Homo sapiens: one gene and its partners. The protein of the gene in region 3 purifies or fractionates together with the protein of the main gene of each other region. This does not show direct contact. Each region holds a gene or a part of one and is shown on either strand. Other genes may lie near its edges.

Region 1 (7,953 bases), on a different chromosome or scaffold from region 3:
GGTCTGTACAACAAGGTAGCCACTAGCCACATGTGGCAACTGGGACATGAAAAGTGACTAGTACAACTGAGAAACTCAATTTATTTTTTTAATTCAAATTTACATTTAAATAGCCAGTATGGGTCTAAACAAGTCTTTTTTATTAAAAGCAAATGAAACTATATTGTCACATTAAAACAAATGGAGGTATATTGATGAAGAATACAAATCTTGCACTAATTTTAATTTTAGATACTGAAATATAATTAAAAATGTTAACGTGCTCTTTACCACACCCAACCAACACTATCCATAAAGATAACATTTATTAATAATTTGTATATATCCTTCCAAACATTTTCTATGCAGACACAAACATTCACATTAACTTTTACAAATAAACAGATAAACTTCCCAACCACAAGTGTAATAGCAAACTTGGGAAAAATTTGAGAAGCACTGTTATTCATTATCCCTTGTTGAAAATTGGAAAACCAAGAAAGAATCAATTAACAAGGCAATAGTGTGTCAATGGCAAAAACCAAAAAGAAAATCCTGTATCAAGAATATGTAAGATCAGTTTGTCTCTTTTTAATTCAACCACCTCATCTCTAAATACTAAGTCTTCAAAAATCTATTTATTCAGGGCATACAGAGGACCATAGCTTAGGTGAACAGTATGGTGTCACTACATTAAAAGACTACAGCTGTCTACTTATCTCTAATGAACATTTCTTCAAGTATATCTCTGGACTACACCAATAGAAACTAATATCTAAATCATTTCTAACAGAATCAGACGCCAATATACTCCAAAGGCAATTAAAAAAAAAAAGCATAAGGACTGCTGAAATATAAACATTTACCCATAGCAGAATTTTTTTTTTAACAGTATAGGAAGTCTATCAACATCTAGAGACTCAGTATAAATGACGGAACTATCATAATTCGAGATGTACTGGGGGCAGAAAAAGTCTGAGAACCCCTAATGTAGAACAACATTGTCCAAAATAAAAGTTCAATAATCTTCCATGTCCAATGGTAGCCACTAGCCACATGTGGCAACATGGCTAGTACAAACGAGCAACCAAGTATTTAATTTTATTCCATTTAAATTAATTTAGGAAACTTCCAACTTAAACTGCTTGGGGTTTATGTTGACAGAGTGGAGCCAGCGGTACCACCTGGAAAGAAAGCAGTTCCTGACAGAGCTAACCAGGCTCTTCCAGAAGTGCTGGTTGTCCGGAGGGAAGTATAATGGTCAAACAACCCATTCCAAGAAAGGGTTCTGTGAAGGGCTTTGAGCCCTTAGACAAGTGTCTGTTAAAAGCTACTGATAGAACAAGGAAGATCAGCACTATGCTGAGCTCCAAAGACATTTTCAGATGGCTTATTCAAACCCACTGAGCTAACTGATGGACAAGGGAAGAGTAAAGCATCACAGGGAAGGGGGCCAAATTTCCTGCTTTCACTAACCACTGAATTCCTATTTTTCCTTTGGTTTTTACTTTTGGCCACAAAGCTAGTTTCTCCATAGTTACTGTTTTCCTGTGAGATTAGGGTCATTCTAGACAGAAGGACTACAATGTTTACAGGGTAGTTGTGGTAAGAAGCCAATTTATTTTAGATTTAGCTAATTGGTCTGTGCTGAACGATTCCAGGATTATCGTTTAAAAGTCTCTGTAGTAATCTCTTTGAAGAGCACTGTATCATTAAACCTATTTAACAGCAAAAAAAAAAAAGTTAATTTGAACTTAAATGCAAGAAATTAAAAATTGATAACTAAGATTTAAGATGTTCAAAATTTAAAAATTACTACATTATAATCTCCAATAAAAATCAGGAAGTCATCCGAGCTACTCGGGAGGCTGAGGCAGGGAATTGCTTGAACCCGGGAGGTGGAGGTTGCAGTGAGCCGAGATCACACTACTGCACTCCAGCCTGGGCAACAGAGCGAGATTCCGTCTCAAAAAAAAAAAGTAAGTAAAAAGTAAATTTAAATAGCCACACGTAGCTAATGGCTACATATTGGACAGTGCCGATCTAAAAGGATGTATGGTAAATATTTTAACCCTCTTAGAGCTTATATTTACTAGAACAAGCTTTATAACCAGAAACTAATTCGATTTTCTACAGAAATAAGACTTCTATTTTTTCCCATTTATGACAATATACGCTCTTTCCCACCCACCCTCAAGCGTTCTCCATAGTGAGTTTCCCGGGCTCACTGAAGATTTTCACATTTAAGGGGGAAGGAAGAAGTGTCGCACTCACATGTGTCCAGGGCTGCGGTCGGTGGATTCTGCCATATACTCCATCGTTCTGTATGCCTTAAGTTCTTTTAAAAAAAAAAAAAAAAAAAAAAAAAAAAAAGAGAATGTTGGGATTTAAATCACTTTACCTAGTCTCCTCTTTTTACGTCTTCCTCCAGTCTCTCTGAATAATTAATATATTCACAGAACTTCGAAAAAGCAGGAAAGAAGGAAACCCAACTCCACTGGGTAAGTTCGTTAAAAAGAACTTTAAGATGAGGACCATGGGATTTCCTGAGCTTCCCAGCTGCAAGACCCTCGGGCCACCCAGCTCTGCCGCTGACCTCCATCTCACCTGGGCTCCAACCCTGGACGACCAAGGGCGAGGTCAGCTCGGGATTGTGGACGCCCGGGCCCTCCCGCTCTCCACCAGCCCAGGGACCGCACCGGACCACCGCGCCTCAGACCCACGCCACAGGAGTCTCCGGACGGCGTCCCGGCGCCCGAGGGCCACCCACGCCGACCCCCAACCCCGGGGCGCGACCGCACACGGGTTCCGGGCACGCGGCGCTCACGCAGACTGAGCACGGCCCCGAGGCCGGGGAGCCCGCCCCATCCGCTACTCAGGGGCCCGCGGCCGACAGCCCAGGTCTCGGACTCCGGAACCTACTTCGCGCCTCCAGACCAGCCCTGGATTTGCTGAAAACCCGCAACAAAATAGACCCCGGCTGTCCCGTCAGCTGCCAACCTGGCTGTCTCCGCCACAGAGAAGATCTCGCGAGCGAAATGCTCGAAATCCCGCGGCCCGAGTGACGTATTAAAAGGGACGGGGTGGGGACGAGGAAAGGGGCGGCACCGACGGGCGGAAGGGTGATGGGAGCGGCCTGGTGGCTGGGAAAGCTCGCGGAGAGAAGTCCCAGGGGCTCATTTGCCGTCAGTGACTGCTTTTCAGTTATCGTCTCGATTTTCCCAGGCCAGGGTTTACTCCAAACCAACCTCGCCCGTATATTAGTCTCTTTTCAGCTATCCCGACTGTGAGCTTGCTTCTTGATTAAATGATTATTTTATATAAAAGTTATCTGTAAACGGTACCTTATGCAAAGAAACTCCATCCAGGGCAGTGCCTTTTGTCTGTTTGGTTCACCGTCATATACAGGCCTGATGCCTGCCACATGCTAACTGCTCAAATGATTATTTGTTGAAAGAATGAAATGTAAAGCATAATTATCTGTGAAGAAGTCTATGCGATTTTTAGACAAATTATTAATTATGTGCTTCCGGATAGTGCATTTAATATCTTCTTATGACTGATTTATCCCTCAAACTTGGAGCAGCACAGACCGTGTCTAATCTGTCTCATGACAGCCTTTCAAATATTTGAAGAGTACAACCATTTTTTTTTCTAAATCCTCTCATCCCAAATTTCAAGGAATAAGCAAAGGCGTTTTGTAGAGGGTGATCAGAGACAGCCTCTCATCATTTCTTGCCCAGAATACTTAAGTAGCCTCTCGTCTGTTGTCTCTACTTGTAGACTTCAATTCATCCTTCTGAAATGCAGTTCTGATTTTGTCACACTCCCCTGCTTTTAATCCTTCAGTGGCCTCTGATTACCTTCAGCATTATTTCCAGTTTCTTTGTGTGGAAAGAAGACCTTTCAGGATCTGATCTCCACATATCCTGTCCTACTCCCAAGCACACGTACTCGCAAGCCATGAAGACCAACTGGCAGGTCCTCACAGAAAATAGTCTTCCTTTGCTTCTACCCGGGACTCGGCACTAAAGATTAAGCCTGAATTAGTTTCCTAGTGCTGCTCTAACAAATTATCACTGATTTAGTTGGCTTAGAAAACACAAATTTGTTCTCTTCCAGTTCTGGAAGCTACAGGTCTAAATAGATGGTGAGGGCTGACTCTGGAGGCTCCAGGAGAAAATCCATTCCCTGGCCCTTTCCAACTTCTACACGCTGCCCACATTCCTTGGCTTGTGGTCCCACATCATTTTGCAGTCAGAGTCTCCTTTTCTCACCCCCACCCCCCCGCACCCCTCTTACAAGGACACTTGTGATTTCACTGGGCCCAACCAAATAATCCAGAATAATCTCTCCATCTCAAGAAATTTAATCACATCTGTAAAGTTCGTTTGCCATGTTAGGTAATATATTCACAGATTTCAGGGAATAGGACATCTTTGCAGAGCCATTATCCTGTCCACCATACATCCTCTCTTTTCTGACTCCTTCGGTCCCTAAGGGCCAGAGGAGTTACATGCTCCTTCTGTATATATGGTTCTATGATAACACCTTTATACGAGGTATATGCCTCTATAATAGTGCTTTGAATTGGATCATAAATTTTCTACTCTGCATGCCCAGCAGTTTCAAAACCCTGGAGAGCAATTCGGGTCTTGTTCTTCTTGGTGCACCTAGCACAGCAGCTGACACAAAACAGACCCTCAATATATATTGGTAAATTAATTATCCATTTAATACCCACCACAACTCTGAAGAGACAGTGTTTTTCTCCCCGTTTTTTCTATTCACACTGCCTATGCCCTCAACCAAACACCACTAGGAACACAGCTGTAGTTAAGCAGCTTCTGTCTATTTATTACTCTTCGAAGTGAGCCCAGACACTCACCATGGATACCCTTTGGGTATCTCAGTAAGAGGGTGTTTAGAACAAACCTATCATAGGATTGGGGCTTTGGGCGGGTGTTTTCGGGGAGGCCCTAAGAAAATAGAGGTTTTTCTATAGATTGGATGCTGTCAGAAAGCAGGGGCAATTCTGTGATTGGATGTCTCAGTAAATCTTATTTACACAAAGGGAAGCAGGAGGATAAAGCTGCAATTAGCAAAGAAGTAGCAGTCACTCATTTTGGTGAAGAAAGGGAATGTTTGGTATTTTGTGGGTGGCATAGTGAACTTATTTTGGTCTGTGCTTAGACAAAATTATGAAGTGACCTTCTTTGCCTCATTTTATCATGGTTTCAGAGTAATCTTGTCTGAGTTTAGTATTCTGTGAAATTATTTCTGTCTAATAGGAAAATATTATGGCATAGCTGCAAGTACCAGACCAGCTTCTAAATGTCAAAGGCTGCTCATTTTTTAACACATTCCTTCTACAATTATTTGATTTGGCTCTGAATACCAGGCTTCTTAAGCACTTGATGTATGATAATAACAGCACAGATATGGTCCCTGCCCTCATGGACCTTACATATTACAGATGAGGCTGGATTAGATTAGGCAATTTGTTGAAAGTCCTATAGCAAATAATTGATAGAACTGGGACGTGAAATACAGTTTGTTTCTGAACCCAGACCCTCACCATAGCAGCCTACCTCCCCTTCTGAGGCTGAGGCCGTCTATTCCTATCCACAACCTTTTGATAAATGAAATACTTCTGTAGTAGAAGGCACCTATATTTCTCTCTTCATCTGCCAGCCCCCACCACTAAGATTTCCAGATGTCAAAAGTAAGTTCTTGATTTCAACTACCTCTCTCATGAGCCTGAATGAGCTTGCTAGGATTGGACTGAGTGGGATAATATTGGCAAACAATACCAGAGGGAAACTCACTTTGCACTTTTTATTTAACCTCAAATCTCACCTGAAAATAATAGGTGAGATTATTTTCAGCTCCCATAGTCCTTGCACTGAGGATATCTATCTGTATTCAAATCTAAGCCTTAGTATATGTTTACAAACTTCATTTCTATGTGTTTAACCATGGTATTAAAATGGAATTCCTGGCCGAACATAATGGCTCATGCCTGTAATCCCAACACTTTGGATGGCCAAGGTGGGAGGATCGACTGAGGCCAGGTTATCCTGGACAACATGTTGAGACCCCCACCTCTAAAAAATAAAAAATAAATATAAAACAATCAAATTAGCCAGGCATGGTGGTATGCACCTGTAGTCGTAGCTACTCAGGACACTGAGGCAGAAGGATCACTTGAGCTTAGGAGGTCAAGGCTACAGTGAGCCAAGATTGCACTACTGCACTCCAGCCTGGGTGAAAAAGGGAGACCCTGTCTCAAAAAAAAAAAAAAAAATCTGCTAATCAATGAAATAATGAAATTCTACACAGAACTTTCAAATGCATACTGTGATATTTTTCACACTATCAAATGTGATAGCACATTTGGGGATATCAAGATAATATTGGAGATTAGTGCAGGGGAGGTGTATTAGGGTATCCTCTTAGAATCAACACCTGTGGAATAGAAGGGCAGAAGCACCATTGGGCAGAAGGGAGCTGTGCTGCCGTGCAGTCTAGTGGAAGCCTCAGCTAACCCTGTGGGAAGCTCTGAAGCTGAAATGACCATTCTGAGTTTTCCCGAGGGGGACTTTGCTCATCGATGAGTCATTGGATGTGACTGTCCCAGGAAAAGGACATAGCATTGGGTGATATTTCTCTCTTCAGCCAAGGCAGTCCCAGAAGTAGATGAAACTGAGGGCTTTCTGCCAGCAGCACTCCCTGCTGTTGTGGGATAAGTACTTCATTCCTTGAGGGGGATCTGGGCAGTACCTCACAGCCACAGCATGCGCCATGTAGAAAGCAGTATGCCTAGGAGAGTCGGTGGAAGACATGGACTCTAAAGTCCTTGTTTCAAGTCTGAGATTTGTGACTGATAGATTCTGTGACCCTAAGGATTTGCTTTACCACTCTGAGCCTTTCTAAAAGCTCCTTTCCTCCTTTCTAAAACTATGTAATAATCCCTACCTCAGAAAATTGTTATGAGAATTGACTGAGATAAGGTACATAGAAGTGTTTAGTAAACTGCAAAATACTATAATGATTGTAGGCCCTGTTATTCTCTGGTGAAGATCCTTAATAGGAATTGAGTGAAGCAATAAGAAATGGTTTGTATCTGAAACAGCCAATGTATCAAATTTGAAACATTACACCTGCGATTCTGCTTCACCCTTAATTTACAATATAAAGACATCATTTAGTAAATGAAATAAAAATTTAGTGTTCACTTTGTAAAATTTGTTAGGGGTAGTGAATATCTGAGTTACTGGTGGCAAATAGATACAGGTCTGCAGCAACCTCAATTCTTGCCTTCTCGGCAGAAAGAATTTGACTGAGGGGCATAAGGCAGAAAAAGAGACTGAAGCAAGTTTCAGAGCAGGAGTAGAAGTTTATTTTAAAGCTTTAGAGCAGGAAAGAAAGGAAAGTACACTTGGAAGAGACCCAGGCAAGAACTGTGGAGGTCAAATGTGGTGTTTGACCTTTTGACTTGGGGTTTTATATGTTGGCATATTTCGGGTGTCTCCGCATTCCTTTTTTCATGATTCTTCCCTTAGAGTGGGCAGCCCACATGCATGATGCTGTCCTTGCGCTTGAGAGATGAGCAGGTGCAGTGTGTTTAAGAAGTTGTATGCATGGCCACCTGAGGCTTTTTTCCCTTTTCCGGTGGAATGCTCCCGGAAGGTCATATAACCAGTTAAAGTCTGCCATTTTACCTTTCAATGTACATACTCAAGCCCACTCGCCCAATTCCTGAGATTTTATTGGAAGTTGTTGATTACCAATTTCAAGTGTTTTTATCCATTGGGAAATTGCCTCTCCCTGGTGCCTGCAACCAATTATTATTTTTAGAAAGGTGATGTGACAACTGCCAGACCATCACCTGATGGTTGCCTGACATTCCTGGTGGGTAGGGGAAGCCCTCTCCTGTCCAGCTCTTGCCTAATTACCACTGTAACAGATTCA
Region 2 (9,480 bases), on a different chromosome or scaffold from region 3:
CTTTAATTTTTAATTAACCTTAGCTTTCAATGAAAAAACCAAGTTCACATGCATTTCAACTTCCACTGAGCCAACGTTTTACACTGGGCTCTTACGATAAAATCTGGGATCAGAGTATATGCCTCTAAATTCTTCCAGACGTTTCATTAATCTAAGAGAAAGGCTGCCTTACATAATCATATAGTCTAAAGCTATATTATGAATGAAGTCATCCACCTAAAAAAAACCCATTTTTTAATTAGTTAGATGCAAGTTAGGTCAAAAAATGTTTCAGCCTTCAAACTAGCTCTTAAGAATTATTACCAAAACATGTAAAAATATGCCAGAAAAAAAAAGAGAAAACCCTGAGAAACACATGCCATAAAAATTACCTTCATACTCTCCATTTCTGTCAGCTCAATTTGAAGAGCCAGCATCTCTGAAGACATGCTTTCCTGCACACGTTCAGACATTACGCGCAGTTCCTCTGATTTACAAGAGAGGAGTTCCTTCTGATGATCTACTTGGTGCTTCAGCTGCTTTTCACTAAGCCTGGCTTCATCTAATTCCACTTTCAGTTTTTCTATCTAAAGCCAAAAAAAAAAAAGTCATAAATTGAAAGTTATTTTCTTTCTAAAAACAATCACTGATTGAACTGATTGAACCAAACTTACTGAATGATGATACTATTGGAGTTTCCTATTTGCCCAAGGTTAGGCATCTTTTAACAGCTAGTGACACACCTTGTTTAATAAACATAGAAATAATCCATGAGTAATCGGGGTGGGTCTGGATGCCTCAGAAGCAATCTGGAGGCACTATGATGCGGACCACTTGGCTACTGTGTGAAGAATGACTGGCATGAAGAGAAACAATGGAAGCAAGCAACCTGGTCAGAAGGCTACAGCAGTAGTCCAGGAAAGAGATGATGAAGGTCTGGATTGGAGTGGCAGTAGCGTCATAGATGTTTTGTAGGTCAAGTTCTTAGAACTTGATGAATTAAATGTGAAAAATAAGAGAAGAAAAGGTATTAAAAAAATCCAAATTTTGGCATAAGTGATTTGAGAAAATCAGTAAAACAAAATATTTCACTAATGTACTCTTTGCTCCACCAAAAAAAAAAAAAAAAAAAAAAGCCATCTCTATAATTAGCCTTACCTCAGTCCTGAATACTCCCTTTATTACTCTTTTTTGTTTAGGTGATGAAAACTATTGCAAAAATAAAAATAACAACCAGAGGGGGAAGAAAGCACATCATTATCAGTCATTAGGGCCTCAAATCCGACTAGTTTCAGACAAGCTGGATGATATTATCTGTCAGAGTGGTATGCAAGATGATTATATATTACATGAAGGTATATTTAGATAGCTATGTTTGTTTTAGTGTATACTGGGAAAAAATAAGCAAGCTTAAATATGTAATTTTGGCCAGGCGCAGTGGCTCAGGCCTGTAATCCCAGCACTTTGCGAGGCTGAAGTGGGCGGATCACGAGGTCAGGAGTTAGAGACCAGCCTGACCAACATGGTGAAACCCTGTCTCTATTAAAATACAAAAATTAGCTGGGCGTGGTGGCGCACACCTGTAATCCCAGCCACTTAGGAGCCTGAGGCAGGAGAATCGTTTGAACCCGGGAGGCAGAGGTTGCAGGTGAGCCGAGATCATGCCACTGCACTCCAGCCTGGGCGACAGTGTGAGACTCTGCCTCAAAAAAAAAAAAAAAAAAAAGGAAAAAAAAATACTTTCATTGATGTTTCTTAAAATCAGTAAACATTAAAAGAGAGTCAATGAGAAATTAAGTAATAGTATAGGTGGTATACAGAAAAAGAAAAATCTTAGAGGCTGCTATACAAGAAGCTGAAAATTGGGTAACAGACTTCTGAGAAAGGAGGACAAAAGTCAGGCAAGTTTTGGTAGACAGTGTCTGGAAAAGTCAGAGTATAGACTATACACAAAGCAGATCCATGATAAAAAGTTCTGGATTCCTCAGAAGCAACCTGAAAGCACTGGCTAGCTGGGAAAAGGGAAAACCACTGACCAATCATTTATCTTGCGTTTATGTTTGAAATGGAGCCAGTGTAACATGCTGTTAGACTATGTAGTGATTCAGTAACACAGCCTTTGGAGTCAGACAGCCTCAGTTCAAACCTAGATGGAGAATTTCTAGTTCTTGAATTGTGTCCAATTTACTCAGTCTGTCTAAACACTGGCTCTTTCATCTGGTATATGGAAATGATAATGGTACCTTTCCACAATATTATTGTAAGAACTGGAGCACATGTATTAGTTTATCCTCAGTAAACAAACTATAAAGTGTCATTTGTAATGCACATTAACTAGTAAGAAACTACTGGTCTGTTTTACAGAATTACAAAGCATACCACTGACTGCAGGGAAGGCTAGGAGACGAGGCTTTCTGCAAGGGGCTGCTGTACCCACTATCAGCAAGGAGGCCATGCTAGTCACTAAACTAAACCTTCACAAATATCCAGCAACCAAAATTAAATAATTGTATTTAATTAATAGGATATAATTTATACAAGTCCCTTAGACAAACTCTTGTATCTCAGTGTTCCCACCCCCAATATTAAGATAATGAAGACTTAGATCTTGGCTATTTTGCAAAGCTGACACTTAAGAAAATCTTTATCATCTAAAGTTTACAGATGGCTGCATAAATATGGAATATTTTGTGCTGAAATACGCAGATATCCCAACCTTAGTTTTTAGTTCATTCACTTCCTGTCCATGGCTTCTGCTTAGTTGTTCTTCCAATTTCTCCAGGTGCATTTTTTGTTGTTGTTTAATAGCTTCACATTCGCAGCTCAAACTTTCTAACATTCGACTCTTGAGTTCAACTTCTCTTTGAAGGGTATATTTTTCTTGTTCATAACTCTGAAAACAGATTCAATTACAATTCAATTACATAAAAATAGCCTAAAGCCATTACATACAATCAGTTTTCAACTTCAATTGTTTCATTCTTATTTCAAGCATTTGCTGCTTTCCAAATAACGAAGACATGTTAAACCTGGAATAACTTTGTAGTTAATCAGTCTTAATAAACCCCTGAGGTGTATTTCGAAACTATGTTAAACCCATGCAAGGGATACCTTACTGCTTCTGTGCCTTGTCAAGGAAGTAAAATGTGCTCCATGGTATGTCAACACGTCAAGTCAAGTAATCTCTGCTAACAACAAAAAAAGATTTAACAGCACTTAAGCTTTCCTCATGAGAATTATTAGTTTGATAATGAGATGCTCTACTTGTAGCTCTGAACACAATGTAGTAGTAATAATAGTTGAAAAAAAAGAAATACTGAATTAGCCTTTACTTTCAGAATGTAGTCATCTGAGAAATGTCACAAAAGGTCTATCAGAATGAATGCAGAGCTGAGACAAAAGGAGTAATTAAAAGGGCTTTTGCTTACTCACAGGGAAGTTTAGACATTAAAAATGTTACAAGTACGAACTCCTTCAAGAGGCTTTAAAAAATGATAAAATATTCCCCTCAAAAACCATTTTATTTTAAAGGAAGACAAAGAGTATTAACTGTTAAACACTGAAATTTGACAAGTTATGACTCAAAATGATTAAGTATAACAGTTTTATTTTCTATTAGTGATATTTGTAATCTTTACTTTGCCTTTATGACTTTGCACTCAGTTCTTGGTTTACAACAGTACTATGTAGAAACACAAAGGTTGCCATCACTAGTTATTTTTACCTGCTACAGATATTTTTTACCTGCCATATTTACAATGTTGAGATTCAAGTTTAAATATGTTACTGAGCATTTGCTAAATTACCCAGATTTATTCATTCATTCTTTTAAGAAATAATCGTGTGGCAGGCATTCAGGATAGTGAACAAGGCATACAAAATTCCCTCTCTCATGGAGTTTATAATCTAGAGATAATTAGCAATGCAGATAATTAAGAGTGGAATCAGGGCCGGGCACAACGGCTCATGCCTGTAATCCCAGCACTTCGGCAGGCAGATTACGTGAAGCCAGGAGTTCAAGACCAGCCTGGTCAACATGGTGAAACCCCATCTCTACTAAAAACACAAAAATTAGCCGGATGTGGTGGCACACATCTGTAACCCCGAGCTACTCGGAAGGCTGAGGTAGGAGAATCTCTTGAACCCAGGAGGTGGAGGATGCAGTGAGCCAAGATTGCGCCACTGCACTCCAGCCTGGGCGACAGAGTGAGACCCTGTTTCAAAAAAAAAAAAGAAAAAAGAAAAAAAAAGTGAATCAGGGCAACTTTACATTACATAGTAAGGGCTGACCTCTCCGCTGAAGTGACATTTAAATGAAAGCTGAAATCTGAGGACTCAACCCAAGAGCAGTGAGGGGTAAACAACTCAAAAAAAAAAAAAAGGCAATAGCTGGTGTAAAGCCCATAAGGGAGGACCAGTATAGTCAAGAACAAGGCAAAGCAGTTTGAGGTGAGGTCAGAAGCTTGGCAGGGGTCAGGTCACATAGGGATCTACAAACCCAAGGATGGAGCTCAGATTTTGTTGTAAATAAAATCAGAAGCTGTTGTATGGTTTTTAGCAGGGCTGTGGCATGACCTTTGGTGTGTTATTCCACGACCACTTAGACGCTGAGTGAAGAATGAATGGCATGAATGGCAACAATGGAAGCAGGCAACCCGGCCAGAAGGCTACAATACTTGTCTAGGAGTGATGATGGTGATCTGGACTACAGTGCCAGTAGCAAAGATACATGCTTTGTAGTCTAGTTCTTAGAACTTATTAATGAGTGAAATGTGAGAAATAAAGGGAAGATATTGACTAAAAGTTCTAGATTTTTGGTATATAAAGAAACCAAAAATATACCAAAAATCTTTGGTATATAAAGATTTTTGGTGTTCAAGAAACTGAATGCTATTATATTTACTAAATAAGCTAAAAAAAATCGTAAAAGAATATTTGGTTAACGGACAGGGAATCCACTCTTCTGTCTGTGTTAAGTTTGAGAAGTCTATTAGTGGGCAGTTGAACACAAACCTAGATTTCATGGGGGAACTAAGGGCTTGGTGTAGTGTCATGGGGCACTTAGATGTTTAGAGGTCTAAAACAAGTGAGGTCTTCTAGGAAGTGTGCAGACAAAGCAAAATCTGGTAGTAAATGTGGCAAAGAGAGTAATGATAACTTGATCTTTCAAACTCTGAATACACTAGGGTGGAAAGAATAACAGGAATTCATTTAGTTCATTCTTTTTTAACAGGGACGGGGCAGGGCGGGAACTAGATCTAAAATCTTCAGAAAAGAATAAACTACTACTACTATTAATTGCTAAACAGGACAAATCTTCAATAGCTAAGCACACTCTTGCAGACAGAGGAGTCCAGAGTCCTACCTCAGTCATGGTCATCATTTCATTACGACATTTATCCAATTGATTCTGTAATTCATTTTGACTCTCTACTAGTTGTAAACCATACTGTGCAGCTTTTAGTCGCTCTTCTTCAGCCTCTTTGAGCCTGCATCGAAGATTTGTGATTATATCTGCCTCCATGTTCTTTTCTTTTTTTTAGCCAACTGTAAATAGAGGAAATAAAACTACTTAAGCTTATACAAAAAACTCCATGCAATAATATCAATAACAGAAGAAACATATCTACTCAATACTACTGTCGTATAAAAACATTAAAATTTTCTTCCTGACTAATAAGTAGTCAAATTTGCATTCTTGTTCCAAGAGCAAGAACTGTTCTGACAATTCTGTTACTGATTTGGGATCAAAAATTAAAGAGTGGAATAGAATACATTTAATTTTGCTTCTAAACAGTTCACCATCAGAAAACTGTTCAGTTGTTGTATGCTAAGCTTCCAATATGTTAAGGTAAGTTTGGTCTCATAATTGGACCACTATCCATATAATCAAAATTAAGGGAATAACAAAAAAGTAATCAAGAAACCTCATAGTAGCAGGTATGGTGGCTCATGCTTGTAATCCCAGCAACTGGGGAGGATTACTTGAGGCCAGGAATTCGAGACCAGCCTGAACAACATAGCAAGACTCCATCTCAATCAATCAATCAATAGAAATAAGGTGGGGATGGTGGCAAGCCCCCGTAGTCCTAGCTACTTGGGAGGCTAAGGAAGGAAAATTGATGGAGTTAGAGGCTTCAGTGAGTTATGATCATGGCACTGACAGAGCAAGACACTGTCTTGAGAAATAATAATGATAATAACAATAATACCACCAGAAAAGGAAGGTCTGGGTACTATAAACACATAAAATATAAAAAGGCAGCTGTGAATAAGGCTCATAAGGTAAAGTAAGAAATATCATGTCTGTAATTTTTCACAACAGTGTTAACTTCCTGAATATATTAAATCTGCTTTCCTGGAAAGAGATTCACTAGTATTTTTCTAGTTATTCATAAAAGTATGCAAAAATAGAAACCATATCCATAAGAATTAAAGGATGTTGCTTTCATTCTAGATTTATAAACAAAGACTTAAACATTATATATAGAAACATTCCACTTTAATCAACCTTACTAATTATCCTTTACTATTTGGTCCCAGCCTCCTAAGCGAGACTCAAACTCACCTTTGCCTTCAAAGGGCACCAGGTCATTGCAAGATGTTCCCCCATGTCTCAAGTCAATGTAGTCATTCACTGAACGAGTATTTCTTGAATGCCTTATATACTAGGTTCCATTCTGGGCAGTTCAGATTCATTAGGGAACAAAATGGACGAAAAAAAAGCTCCTCCCTCATGAAACTTACATTCCAGGAGGGGAAGATAAACAGTAAGTAACAGAATATTAATAAATTAGAAAGGGGAGATGAGAAAAAATAGAACAGAATAAGAATCTGGGAAGAAGGGACAGGTGATGTAACCAGGAGGCAGAAGATGAGAGAATCAGCCAGGCAGCTATTTAGAAGAAGAATGTTCCAGCAAGAGGGGAATCCTTAAGGCAGGAAGAAGCCCAGGGAGTGAAATTTGGCTAAGAGATAGTAGAGAGTGGGCAAATCAGGCCATTATAAGGACTTTGGCTCCTACTTTGGGTGACATGGGAAGTCATTCCAAAGTCTGGAGTAGAGGATCTGATATAATTTAAAAGAATCATTTTGGCTGCTATGTTGACTAGTTTAGAAGGGGAACAAGGCTGGAAGCAGAGACCATGTGAAATGGCTCAGACTAGGGTGGCAGCATAGGAGGCTGTGAGAAATGGCCAGATTTTGAAGGTTTTGAAGGTAAGGTCAATATGATTTTCTGAAAGATATAATTTGGGATGTGTGAAAAAGGGAAAAGTAAAAAATGCCTCCAAGTCTTCTGGCCTGAGCACCTAGTAAAATGGAATTGCCATCAGCTGAAGCACTGATGTAAATAATGTTTTGGAAATAAAATCAGGAATTTGAGTTTTGAACATGAACTATGTCAAGTAGGCAATTGGATATATGAGAAGAGGAATCTTGGCTGGATATGCAAATTTGAGAATTATCAGTCTATAGAGGATAAAAGTATTTAAAGAGAAATGGACCAACGACTGAACCCTGTTATGAGGTAGGGAAGAAGACAGCGGAGAATCAGGAGTGACCAGTGAGGTAGAAGGAAAACCAGGAGTATGTGTTGTCCTGGAAGGCAATAAACAGTGTATTAAGGAGGTGGGAGTAATCAATCATGCCAGATGCTGCTGCTAAGGCAATTAAGGTGAGAGCAGAGAACTGGCCATTGAACTTGAATTCCTGGAGGTCTCTGGTGACAAGAACAGTTTTGATATCCAGGTGGGGGTGAAAGCCTAACTAGAATGCCTTCAAGAGAGAATGGTAGGAGATAAAGATAGCAAGCACAGGTTTGCTGCAAAGGATAACGGATAAACGGAGCAGCAGTTGGAGAGGAAGTAGGGACAAGTTTTTTTATTTTTAAGATGGAAAAAAATAACAGTGTTTGTAGGTCATGGGATAAATCCAGGAGAGAAGAAAAACTGATGATCTAGAAGACACTGGAGAATTGCTAGTGATGTCCCTGAATAAACAGGATGAAGTTTAATGTAGAGACTGGTTTTAATAGAAGCATGGATATTTCATTTAAGCAAAGTATATGAGTTTAGATGCTGATAAGCAGGTACAGTGGTGGAAGTCTGTGTAAGTAACCTTTTAACTGCTTCAATTTATCAATGAATTAGGAAGCAAGGTCTTTAACTGAGAATGAAGACAAGGGAAGAGATACAGGGTTTAAGAGAGAAAAAAAGGTGTTCTAGGTAATCCCAGCTTGGCAGTCACTGCTCTAAAATGCAAGACCTTTTCAAAGCCTGTACATGATACGGCCAGCCAACTAAATGTTGTACTGTTCACAATAACTTACATTCGTTGAGGATTTACCATTTGCCATGCTAACTGCTTCAAATATATTATCTCATCTAATTATCTTGATGAGCTTGAGTTAAGTAAATACTGTCATCTCAACTACCAAAATAAAAATAGGGTTAACCTCAAGACATTCCAGCCAGGCATATCCAGAGAAGCCAAAAAAAATTTGCTTTAGTTTATTCAAAAAATTTGCTGGAATTCTTATTGTGTGAGACATTGTGCTAGTGTTGACAACACAATGGCAACCTAAAACAATATTCCTGTCTTCTTGAATCCTAGTCTATTAGTAAAAGACATTAAATCAAGTAATTGAACTATCAAGTTACAAGTATGATAAGTGCAAGAGAGACAGATGTATGCTACCTGAGCCTGTAACAAGGGGGAGCTGTCCTAATCTGGGGGGCAGCGCGTAGAAGGGAACATGGACAAAAAAATTTTCCTGAGGAAGTAACTTTTCAGCAGAGGTCTAATGGATGAGAAAGAGTTAACCTATCAATCTACAAAGAGAGATAGCCGTGGTTGATTAAAAACTACTAATGTGTGACAGACATTGTGCTTGGTGCTTTATACACATTCTTTTTTTTTTTTTTGAGACGGAGTCTCGCTCTGTCGCCCAGGCCAGACTGCGGACTGCAGTGGCGCAATCTCGGCTCACTGCAAGCTCCGCTTCCCGGGTTCACGCCATTCTCCTGCCTCAGCCTCCCGAGTAGCTGGGATTACAGGCGTGAGCCACCGCACCCGGCCGCTTTATACACATTCTTATTCAATCTTCTCAACAACTTCAAGAGGTTGAAGGTATTTCCCTCATTTTACACATGCAAGCTGAGGCATAGAAAGTTTTAAGTAACTTGCTTAGGGTTACCCGCAAGTTAAGACGCGAAGTGTGATGGGAACTAGAATCTACCTAGAAACCATGGTGCTGCAACCATTTTTCCTGTCCTGCTTCTCAAAAATATAGCACACACAAAGCATTTGGGACACAGGAAACTCTGGGAATCAAACTGCCTGAGTTCTTACCCCGCCTCCACTACTCACTGGCTGCATGAACTTGGACAAGTTATTTAATTTCTGGTTTAATCATCTATAAAAACAAGCACAATAACACCCACCTAATCGGTTACTGAAAGGATTAAATGAGATAACGAATGAAAAGCAATTAGGGTAGAA
Region 3 (10,647 bases):
CACAGGGCAGGCTTGGGAAATGGGGGGCCGTAAGGCCACAAGACATGTGGGCAGGTAGCCCAGAGTGTGTCTGGAACATCCTGTTTATTGGTCGGCAGTGACATCTACTGTCACATTTGAGAACTGCATCCACAGCCACATGACCTCCTGTGAAGACCTCAGGGCAAACTGGGGAAACCTGCCCTTCTTGGAAGGTGATACTAGGGGGGATGAGCAACACCTTTCTTGGAGGTTTGAATTCTTCAGGGCCCCTCCAGCATCTTGGTCTTCCTAATTCCTCCCTTGATCCCCCAGCCCTAGGGGTGGTAGCTTCTTGCAGTGTTTACCTCCGTGTTAATCTGGATTCTCTCTGTCTTCGGAGTTCTCTAATGCCTGGTTACCAATTCTTTATATCAAGTTCTCTCCGTTAAAATCATTGTGGTGGGGTCCATCCCATGGATATACATGGAGGTCTGTGTGACAATGTATAATCTTACTATTTGCAGTTATTACAAAACTGTCCTAGAAGACATGAATGCTTGTTAAAAGAAATCTTTTAAGTTTCCTAGACTTCAAAGACCGTTGCTATGCCCTGTGAAACATCGCCTATATCCTTTAACAGTTTGCAATTCGAATTGGTTACTTACTTAACATTTTGTTGCCCTGGTGATACAATTATGTTGACTCGTTATTGTGAGGTTACTTTGTTATTAACCATGATGAGGATTACTAGCACATACTTTTACTCCATATGTATAACACAACAATGTAGTAAAACCAATAACTCTTGGTTCTCTATTCAAAGTGTTTGGAATCTTTATTCTGTTTAAAACACTGATGACATTTGCCAATTTTTGAGTGTTCTTCATGTTACTGATTTGTAGGAGCTCTTTATATATTGCAGATTTAGTCTCTTACTGGTTATGTATGCTGCACCTGAGGAGTAGCAGCACTGCCAAGGACACTGAGTGTCTTGTCTGTGCAGAGCTTCACATGAAGCTGGAGAGAAGGGACTGGGGCAAGAGGGAAAGATAAAAAGGGGCAAGTAAGTAACAGAATGAATCCTTGTTGCTAATCTCCTGGCCCCCATCCCAGACCCTTCAGGGGATCCTGGCGATTCGAAGCAGCATAGCCTGATAGGCCTCTGGTGAGGGTGTTGGGAGGGTTTTCTTGGCCGCCTGTTCCAGGATGCTCAAGATGATGCTGTGGGCCTCCTGGCATAGCTCAGCACCCAGGAAAGCCTCCACTCGTCCACGCCATGCTGCCAGTCGTGGCCGTCCCTCAAACAGTTCATAGCCGAGAGCCACCGGCTGTAGGGACAAGGATGAAAAAGTTGTGGGCATACAACTTTCCCAGTTGTCACTGCCGACCCGAATGCTGGAACCATGGGCAGAAGTATCAGAGACATGGTCCATTCCCCAGCCCCTAAGTGAATGGACCACAGGGGCCCAGGCAGTATGTTCAGCCTTAGAGCCCAAGAGCAGCCAGGGTGAGACCCCACACCCAGGCAGGAGGCAGAAGTTCAGGGTTCTGGCCCCAGATCATCCAGAGACTTGCTCTATGATTCTGGGCAAAGTTCTGGCTTTCTCCAGGCCTCAGTGTTTCTGTCTGCCTCATGGGTGTGACACGAAGAGGGACACTGCCCACAGGCTGAGCTCACACCTGCATCAGCTCCTCCAGGGCCATGAGATCAGCCAGTGTCACCTGCTGGCCAGCGAGGAAGGGCCTGTCCCCCAGGAACTTGTCCTCCAGCCATTGCAGGGCCTGGTCCATGGCAGTCCTGTTGCGTTCCACCTTCTCCTCGGGCACCTGGACCCCAATGAGTGGCCCCAACACCTGATGGGGGCAGAGAGTGGGTCAGTCTATGGCCCCGGCCTACTGCCAACTACTCCCTGATGGCCAATCACTCTCCAGATGGCTCTCCTCACCTGGACCCACAGGGGTATACCAAAGGTGCCACGGATGCAGTCGGCATGCCAGCCCAGGTACTCATGAACACGGGCACGAGCCTGCAGGTCAGATGGATACCAGTGGTCCGGCGTCTGGTACTTACAGCTCAGGTAAATCAGGATGGCCGAGCTGGGAACAAATGGGCAGTGGCTATAAGGACACTGGCACCAGGCATTTACCCCTAACTGCTCCCATCTGCCAGTGGGGCCCGGGGGCTTCTCTGCATTTGAAGGACTGCCCTCCAGCCTCGCCCTCCATCTCCAGCTCCCCAACACCACCCCCTCCTCCTACGAGTCTCCTCCTGTCTTTGTTGCCTTGGGCACCGACTCTTGGCTGGACCTTCTGCTTTGCATTTTGAGAACCTCATCTCTGTGATATGCCAGCAGCCGCCCTGTGAGGTAGACACTCCTGTTAGCCTTTTAGCACAAGAGAAAACTCAAGGTCAGAATGGTCAAGTGACTTGTCCGAGGCGGTGCAGCTCAGAATAGGCTCCCTGGACCCCTGGAACCCTGCATGGGGCTGGCACACAGTGGATGCTCCGTGGAGTCCCTTGCATGTCCACGCGCTTGGGTCAGGGATCACGAGGGGAGGAATGTCTTTGGCCCCCGTCTGACAGGCCCCCAGCCATCACTTCTGCAGCCACCTGACCTCTTGTCCTTTTCCTGCCCAGCAGCTGGACCTCACCATGAGCTGTGCCCTTGGGCCATGGCATTGGCCTCTAGGCCCGGCCTGGGTAGATTGGGTAGTCTGCAACAAGTCACTAGAGGCTCTTTTCAGCTAGCATTTGTTGAACAAATGCGCAACAGTGGAAAAATGTTCCCTTGTCTTCTCTTCTAATACCCTTCAGTCTGGGAGTGGAGAGGCCCTGCGGCTCAGAAAAGGCTGGAAGATGAGAGGTGGGGGGACATGTTCTGTCAGCCCCTGCTCATCCCGGTCACACCCCAAGCTGTACCTTCTCCCCAGATACCTCTCCTTTCTTTCTTTCCTTTTTTTTTGAGACGGAGTCTCCCTCTGTCGCCCAGGCTGGAGTGGGCTCCCTCTGTCACCCAGGCTGGAGTGCAGTGGTGCTATCTCTGCTCATTGCAAGCTCCGCCTCCTGGGTTCACGCCATTCTCCTGCCTCAGCCTCCCCAGTAGCTGGGACTACAGGCGGCCGCCACCACGCCCTGCTAATGTTTTGTATTTTTAGTAGAGACAGGGTTTCACCGTGTTACCCAGGATGGTCTCGATCTCCTGACCTCGTGATCCGCCCACCTCGGCCTCCCAAAGTGCTGGGATTACAGGCGTAAACCACCGCGCCCGGCCTTTTTGAGACGGAGTCTAGCTCTGTCGCCCAGGCTGGAGTGCAGTGGCGCGATCTCAGCACACTGCAAGCTCCGCTTCCTGGGTTCACACCATTCTCCTGCCTCAGCCTCCAGAGTAGCTGGGACTACAGACGCCCGCCACCACGCCCGGTTAATTTTTTTTCCATTTTTAGTAGAGACGGTGTTTCACGGTGTTAGCCAGGATGGTCTCGGTCTCCTGACCTCGTGATCCGCCCGCCTTGGCCTCCCGAAGTGCCGGGATGACAGGCGTGAGCCACCGCGCCCGGCCAGATCCCTCGCCTTTCCCCTCCCTCGCTGCCCCATGGGGTATGGGAGGGCCACTGGGGCCCGGGGCCAGTGGGGAGAGCCAAGGTCACATGGGCTCCGGATGCGGTGAGGGGTGAGGGAAGGAGGGCACCTTTCGGTCAAGATGAAATCACCATCCTTGAGCGTCGGCAGTTTCCCCAGGCTGTTGATCTGCAAGAACTCCTTGCTCTTGTGCTGCCCTGAAGAGGAAGAAGTCAGAAAAGGTCTTCAGAATAAAAACGCTGCACCTCTACACCCTCCCTCCTCCTCCCCAAGCGGAGCCCCACAGCCCTGAGAAACAGCAAGGTCTGGGACTAGAGGCCTGGATCAGCCTCACTCCCTGGCTGGGCCTCCCTGCCCTGCCACATTCCGGGGCAGCTGGGGGGCTTTGGTGGGTGGGGCCAGGTGCAGCAGGTGGATAAAGAGAAGTTTTCTAGCCGGACTCTGGTGGGCCAGGGGAGGGGAGGCAAACTGGGGTGGCTCATCTCTTCCCATCTCTTAATTCTCACAACAGCATGTCCTTCTTCCCAAGGTCTTCTGGGCTTTGTGAATTTATATGCGTGCATTCCACGCAAGAACTCTGTCAACTCCATTCAGTATTTTCTTTCCATCCCTACAGAGCAGAAGGTAACATTATCCTCCTTTTCAGAAGGCAAGCTAAGGTTCAGAGAGGCTGTGATCCCTCCAAGGCCACTCAGTCCACAGCATTCTCTGGTGGCAGACGCTGCAGGAGGAGGTGAGGGGGCTGTGCGGGCGGCGAGACGCTCAGGGCAGAGCAGGGCGGGGGCCTGGGGGTGCACTGGGTTTGTGGACACGCGGGGAAACGGGCTGGGCCCACCTTTGACCAAATCCACGGTGCGCAGCTCTAAGGGGATGCCATTCTTCTTGGCGAAGATGTAGACGGCGCGGCTGGGCTGGGACACCAGGTCAAGAAACAGCTCTAGGCCCATGGCGGGGGCGGCAAGGACAGCGGGGATGGCAGTGAAGGCGCTGAGCGCGGTGTGGGCAGCAGCTGTGGCAGGATCCCGGCGCGCCGGGAAATAGGGGATCAGGCCCCACCCCCTGGGGACAGCACCCAATTGGAGCGCACCACCCCCGGACCCGCCTCGCCCCTTCGGTTCCTGTCCAGTCCTGCCGGCCAAGACTCCACCACCAGATCCGTGCGTCCCTACAGGGAGGGCGGTCGCTATGAACGCACAGCTGGGAGGGTGGAGTTGGAGCTGGGGACCCTCGACTGGCAGGGAGGACGCGGATGCAGGGGGCCGACTGCAAGGGGAAGGGGAACCGGCTGGACAGGGAGAAGCAGGTCTGCTTTTCGGGATCCCGGTGCCAGGGACCCTGCCCAGTTCCAGGCGTCGCCCTGACCCAGAAACGACTGGGCGCCGCCGTCCTGGAAAGGCCCCAGCGCACGGACATCTGAGGGTTCGTTCAGAGCTCTGTTTCTCGGCGCTGCATGGTGGCGGAAGGGAGGGAGCGAATGGGATCCCCTAAAAGGGATCTTAGAGTTTCACCCAGTGGGATGTGACACTTGCAGGTGTCCCAAACTGGTGGGAACCTTGACTGGAAGGCTGGGGTTAAGGATGAACTTTCTGCCGTCCAGACTGTCCCCTGCAGAGCAGCTGCTGCCAGACAGCGGGAGCTGCCAGACAGCGGGAGCTCCCACTTCGTGCACAGGATGGGGGCAGGGAGCCCGCAGCCGCGGGAGGCAGGAATGACTGTCCGGGAACCTCCTTTCTTCTCCCTGAATCCCAGCCCTGGCATCTCACCAGGGGGCACAGTGATGGTCCAGGGCTGGGCCCGGGACTCTAGCTGAATCTTTCAGAGTATCCCATCCCTCTGGCCAGTGGCCCAAGCGAGTGAACCAGAATGCTTCCTTGGGAGTTTTGAAACTGGAACTGGAGAGAGGAGCTCCCTATGGGGAGGTAAACGGGAGCTGGGGCCACCTGTAGTGACATTTCCTGAGTTCGAGGAGTAGACGAGACTGAGAGAGAAAAGCTGACTCAGAGAAAGGGAGTGATAACAGGGCATGCTGGCCCACACCTGCAATCCCAGTTACTCTCACGGGATCTGTTTCTCTGATGTCTGGGTATGAAAGGACTTTCTAAGCCTCAGAACAGTGGGAGAACTCAACAAAGAAAAAACCAATACATATACAAGGTTACTTTGTGGAGGAAAAAATGGATTAACCTTAAGCAAAAAACTGGGAAGGATCTCGGTAAAAGATACGTCAGAAGGAAGTAATGTCCTTTAAGATGTTCTTAGAAACCCATCAGACAGGTAGGGTGTGGTGGTTCACGCCTGTAATCCCTGTACTTTGGGAGGCAGAGATGGGCGGATCAGTTGAGGTCAGGAGTTTGAGACCAGCCTGGGCAACACGGTGAAGCCCCGTCTCTACTAAAAATACAAAAATTAGCTGGGTGCGGTGGCACACTCGGGAGGCTGAGACAGGAGAATCACTTGAACCTTGGAGGCAGAGGTTTCAGTGAGCTGAGATCATACCACTGCACTCCAGCCGGGCCACTGAGCGAGACTGTCTCAAAACAAACAAACGAACAAACAAAAAGAAGAGAAACTCATCAGACGAAGACACAGGAAAAAAATGAGCGAAGGAAATCAGCAGAGGTTTCATTGAAGGACAAAGAGAAATGGTCAATACATGGATGAAAACATGTTTAACTTCAGTAATAATCAAGGAAGCACACACCAACACAACATGCACATACTGTTTTTATTTATCAAAGGCACACATATTTTTGAAATGAGTACTCCTAATTAATATGTACAGAGCACTTACCCAGTGCCCAGCACAGGGGTGGCACCCTGTGTGTGAGACAGCATGAAACAGGTAGACACGCGCCCTGCTGAAAGTAAGGGACCGCCTCTCTGGAGGATCCATCGGGCAATAAGGAGGTTTCCACACCTTAACTGTGTCTGCCTTGACCTCTGGGGCCTGGGAGCAGAGCCCCCTCCAGCTGGTGGGGAAGGAAGCGTGGTGTGTTTGAGGACAGAATGGAGAGAAGTTGAGTAGAGCAAGTGTAGACTCTTCCTATCCAAAGTGTGGTCAATGGACTGGGAGTATCAGCATCACCAGGGAGCTTGTTGGAAATGCAGAGGCTCAGGCCCCACTCTGACCTTACTGATTGGGAGCATAAACTGTAACCAGATTCCAGGGAGGATTCATACACACATTCCCGTTTGATAAGTGGGGGGTAGTAGGAGGTGAGGTGAAAAGTGGGGAGGGGATGGCTACCGCACTGGAGAAGGCTGGCTTTGTGTTGAGGCCTTTCTCATGAGGGCAGTGGGGAGCCATGGAAGGCTTTATGCAAGAGAGGGTACGGGCAGATTGAGATTACAGAAGGATCCCACTGGTTGCCTTGTGTGAGGACCCAGGGAGAAGGGGGAGGCTGTCCCTGTTTGAGTAGGAGATGAGAGCTACTGGTGGCTATGAGTGGAAAGAAGTGAGCAGAGGTGAGCAGAAATCCCAAGGACTGGTGATGATAGGATGATGGTGGGAACCAGGATGGGCTTTGGGCAGACCCTGACCCCTCTCTCTGCCTGTCGGCCCACCAGATAATAATCCCTGTGTTCCTGGGCGAGTCAGTGCCACCCGAGATGTTGGCGGCCACTTTGGCTGAGCTGGACGGATGCTTGCAGCTGCTCGAGGACAAGTTCCTGCGGGACCAGGCCTTCCTTACTGGGCCCCGTATCTCTGTGGCTGGCTTGGTGGCAATCACGGAGCTGAGGCATGAGAGTGCCATGGGGTGCGGTGGCCCGCTGGGCAGTGGTGTATCCGGGAAGGGAGCTGACATCCCAGCTCATGTTGTCTTTTCTGGCTGTGGGACCCTGTGTGAGTCACTTCTCCTTCTGAGCCTCAGTGTCCTCATCTATAAAATGGGGCTTTACAAACCCCTCACCGCAGCTATATTAAGAGGCTTCCAAGTGTCCCCAGGGAGGGGGACATCCTAGCCCATCACACACATGGTGGAGGAGGGAAAATCCAATCAGAGAACCCCTAAAGCAGGTCATGCTGCCTTACACTTGGCTATGCCCAGCCCCTCCGCTGACTCTGTCTTCCCCTAGCCCATCAGTGCTGGCTGCTGAGTCTTTGAAAGCGGACCCACGGTGGCAGCATGGTGCCCAACACGTGGAGGCTGCAGTGCGGGAGGACTTCTTCCAGGAGGCCCTCCCAGCTGTCCTGAAGGCCAAGGACCTGCCTCCAGTAGAACCTGCTGTTAAAGAGAATCTGAAGACCTTAATGCAGCTTTTCTTGCTGTGAGTGCGTGTCCCACACTTGCTGAGCCACTGAGGGGATGCTGTGTTGGTAGAATAAAGACATGGAGCTGTCCGTCTCCTTGGTTGAAGAGAAGACATATCTGCAAAGGCTCTGGTCCACAGTTCCTCCAGATATCATGCCTGCATTCCTTTTGTCTCCTACCCCATTCCATTCTAGCTTCCATGTGACCTCTGAAAAGAGCTTGGGCAAACGCTTACTTGACCCTGACCTTCTGTGTGGAACTTTGTATGGTTCCTCACTGCCCAGAAGCTAAAGTACAAGTCATTGAACTTTGCATTCAAGGCCTTGCTCCCACTCCTCCAGGTGGCCCCTTCTGCCTGCACACTCCTAACCCCTCTCTGGGCTCCCACCTTGGCCTCTTGGCCTCCGCTCATGCTGTTCCCTCCTCATCTTCGCCTGGTGCCCTTCCTGGTCTTTTGGCATTTGGCACCCTGTCTCTTCTCCAGGGAGACTTCCCTGACCTCCCCAGCCCCAGTCCAGGTCAGGCGACCTCTCTGGGCTCCTCAGCCCCAGTGTTTCCTTGCGGGGGATACCCCCGGACTGAGCATGTATCATCGATGAGGGGTGACCTGGTGGAAAGATGTCTGAATCAGGATCAGCCTTGGTCTCCTCGGTCTCTCTCCTCACTGTGGGGCGATGTTGTGTTCCACAAGTGGGGTGCAGGGCTGGTTCATGAACCTCCTTGCAGGAAGGGAAGTCCCTGGTTATTTCCTGGCCCTCTCCCATGCCTCCTCATAACCTTGACCACAGTCTTCTCTACACCCCACTCCCGGACCACTGGCTTGTCCATGCCCCACACCTGGTCCCAGACTTGCCACCTGTCCCTGCCCTCTCCCCTTAGGACTGTCATATTTACCTGTCGTGTGTCTCAGACCTTCTGATATCTGAGTCATCTAATAAACAAACTGCTAATAGGACAAGATCATGACAGACAGAGACTCTGTCGGCCTTTCAGTGGAGGCTCCTTTAAGTATGCACACTTATAGAGAATTTTATACACGTAGTTGAAATTGTACATATAAACTTGCAAATTTTTTCTTTCTTTTTTGTGGGGGAGGGGGGAGCCTGGGTCTCACTCTGTCATCTAGGGTGGAGTGCAGTGGCACAGTCATAGCTCCCTGCAGCCTAGATCTCCTGCGCTCAAGCAATCCTCCTGCCTCAGCCGCCCAGGTAGCTAGGACTACAGGCACACACCACAGCACCCAGATTTCTTTCTTTTTTTTTTTTTTTTGTAGAAAATAAAGAAGAGAATCTTGCTATGTTGCCTAGCCTGATCTTTAACTCCTGGGCTCAAGCAATCCTCCCTTCTTAGCCTCCCAAAGTGCTGAGATTACAGGTGTGAGCCACATTGCTCGACCACAACTTCAATCATATTTGTAATGTACAATTCAAGTGATTTTGCCACACTGACCACACTCATGTTTAAGCCACGCCAACAGAGTTCCATGTTTTCTGATGTTTTTTCGAGATGGAGTCTCGCTCTGTCACCCAGGCTGGAGTGCAATGGCGCGATCTCGGCTCACTGCAACCTCCACCTCCCCGGTTCAAGCGATTCTCCTGCCTCAGCCTCCCGAGCAGCTGGGATTACAACGTCTGCCACCACGCCCGGCTAATTTTTGTATCTTTAGTAGAGACGGGGTTTCGTCATGTTGGCCAGGCTGGTCTCAAACTCCTGACCTCAGGTGATCCGCCCGTCTGGACCTCGCAAAGTGCTGGGATTACAGGCGTGAGCTACCGTGCCCGGCCTTTCCATGTTTTAAAGAACATATTTTGCCACCCCCTGGTGGACAGTGGCTCACCACCGGCACAAGAGGCTACACAGGCAGATGTCAATGGGGACCAGGCAGGGACAGGTATTGTCGTGAGCCTAGCCCTACCCGCGCCCCCGCGAGTAACCACATCTCCTGACTGCCCAAGCGCAGATTTCCATACTGAACATGAAATTGCCTGACTTCGAAATGGTGGCAAATCATTCAAAAAAACTTTAAGCTCCCGTTGTATTGGTTATTAGGGTCGAGCCTGGGGAAGACCCCTATAGGTGTGTGTGTGTCCTTGTGTGTCGGGGGTGTGGTGTTCAGACCTCTAATAGGGCTAGGAACCGGGCGACCACAGCGCGGAAGCTTGAGAGGGAAACCCACCTGGCGCCAGGCAGGAGGGTCGGGGGAGACAGGGTGGGTCCACTACCGGGTTAAAGACCTGTAGTGGGTGGGGCTACACGTAGGGCGGAGACGATGGGACTTCCGGAAATCAGCCGGCACACGTGACTTTTGTTTGCAGAAGCGGGAGGTACCCTAGGCAGCCAATCGGGGAGCGCCGAGTCTCTGTCCAGCCAATGAGAAGCCAGGTTGCTGTGGCGCCTCGCCCCTCCTCCCTGGTCCGCGAGCCTTGGGTACCCCCAGCTTTTCTTCCGCCAGAGCTGTTTCCGTTCCTCTGCCCGCCATGCCGTTCCTGGAGCTGGACACGAATTTGCCCGCCAACCGAGTGCCCGCGGGGCTGGAGAAACGACTCTGCGCCGCCGCTGCCTCCATCCTGGGCAAACCTGCGGACGTAAGCGTGGGCCGGGCAGCACGGGGCGAGGGGAGGTTGGTGGGCCAGGGGTCCGGCCCTGTCCCTGCTCCGCCTCCCCGACAGTGACCCCGAATCTTTTCCCCAGGGACCACTCCCCACTCCTTTCCTCACGCCAAGCTCTGACTTTCCGTGCTCCACGATCCCGCGGCTCCCCCTCCGCACGTCTTTCCCTTGTCGCCCTCCCCAGTCATGACCCGGGCGTGACCTTCAGGGACCGCGGCCCGTATCGGGATCCCTGCCCCGCGAA

What was found.
Region 1: the proteins of GSTT2B (region 3) and NMD3 purify together in Homo sapiens (affinity purification with mass spectrometry; 2 studies listed by BioGRID and IntAct, with this or other methods). This does not show direct contact.
Region 2: the proteins of GSTT2B (region 3) and SPDL1 purify together in Homo sapiens (affinity purification with mass spectrometry; 2 studies listed by BioGRID and IntAct, with this or other methods). This does not show direct contact.

Annotation. Positions count from the first base shown.
Region 1 is NC_000003.12:161,216,358-161,224,310, reverse strand, and holds the start of NMD3 (60S ribosomal export protein NMD3), read right to left. Parts: upstream 3,001-7,953; 5' UTR 2,902-3,000; exon of another isoform or gene 2,587-2,901; intron 2,318-2,586; 5' UTR 2,298-2,317; coding exon 2,254-2,297; intron 1-2,253. UniProt on the Homo sapiens protein: Acts as an adapter for the XPO1/CRM1-mediated export of the 60S ribosomal subunit.
Region 2 is NC_000005.10:169,584,440-169,593,919, reverse strand, and holds part of SPDL1 (protein Spindly), read right to left. Parts: intron 6,722-9,480; exon of another isoform or gene 6,548-6,721; intron 5,548-6,547; exon of another isoform or gene 5,527-5,547; 5' UTR 5,504-5,526; coding exon 5,345-5,503; intron 5,322-5,344; exon of another isoform or gene 3,091-5,321; intron 2,873-3,090; coding exon 2,696-2,872; intron 567-2,695; coding exon 372-566; intron 1-371. UniProt on the Homo sapiens protein: Required for the localization of dynein and dynactin to the mitotic kintochore.
Region 3 is NC_000022.11:23,956,644-23,967,290, forward strand, and holds GSTT2B (glutathione S-transferase theta-2B), read right to left. Parts: upstream 4,553-10,647; 5' UTR 4,489-4,552; coding exon 4,377-4,488; intron 3,739-4,376; coding exon 3,651-3,738; intron 2,059-3,650; coding exon 1,908-2,058; intron 1,816-1,907; coding exon 1,642-1,815; intron 1,290-1,641; coding exon 1,080-1,289; 3' UTR 771-1,079; downstream 1-770. Other genes in the region: DDTL (D-dopachrome decarboxylase-like protein), read left to right, coding at 10,272-10,379. UniProt on the Homo sapiens protein: Conjugation of reduced glutathione to a wide number of exogenous and endogenous hydrophobic electrophiles. Has a sulfatase activity.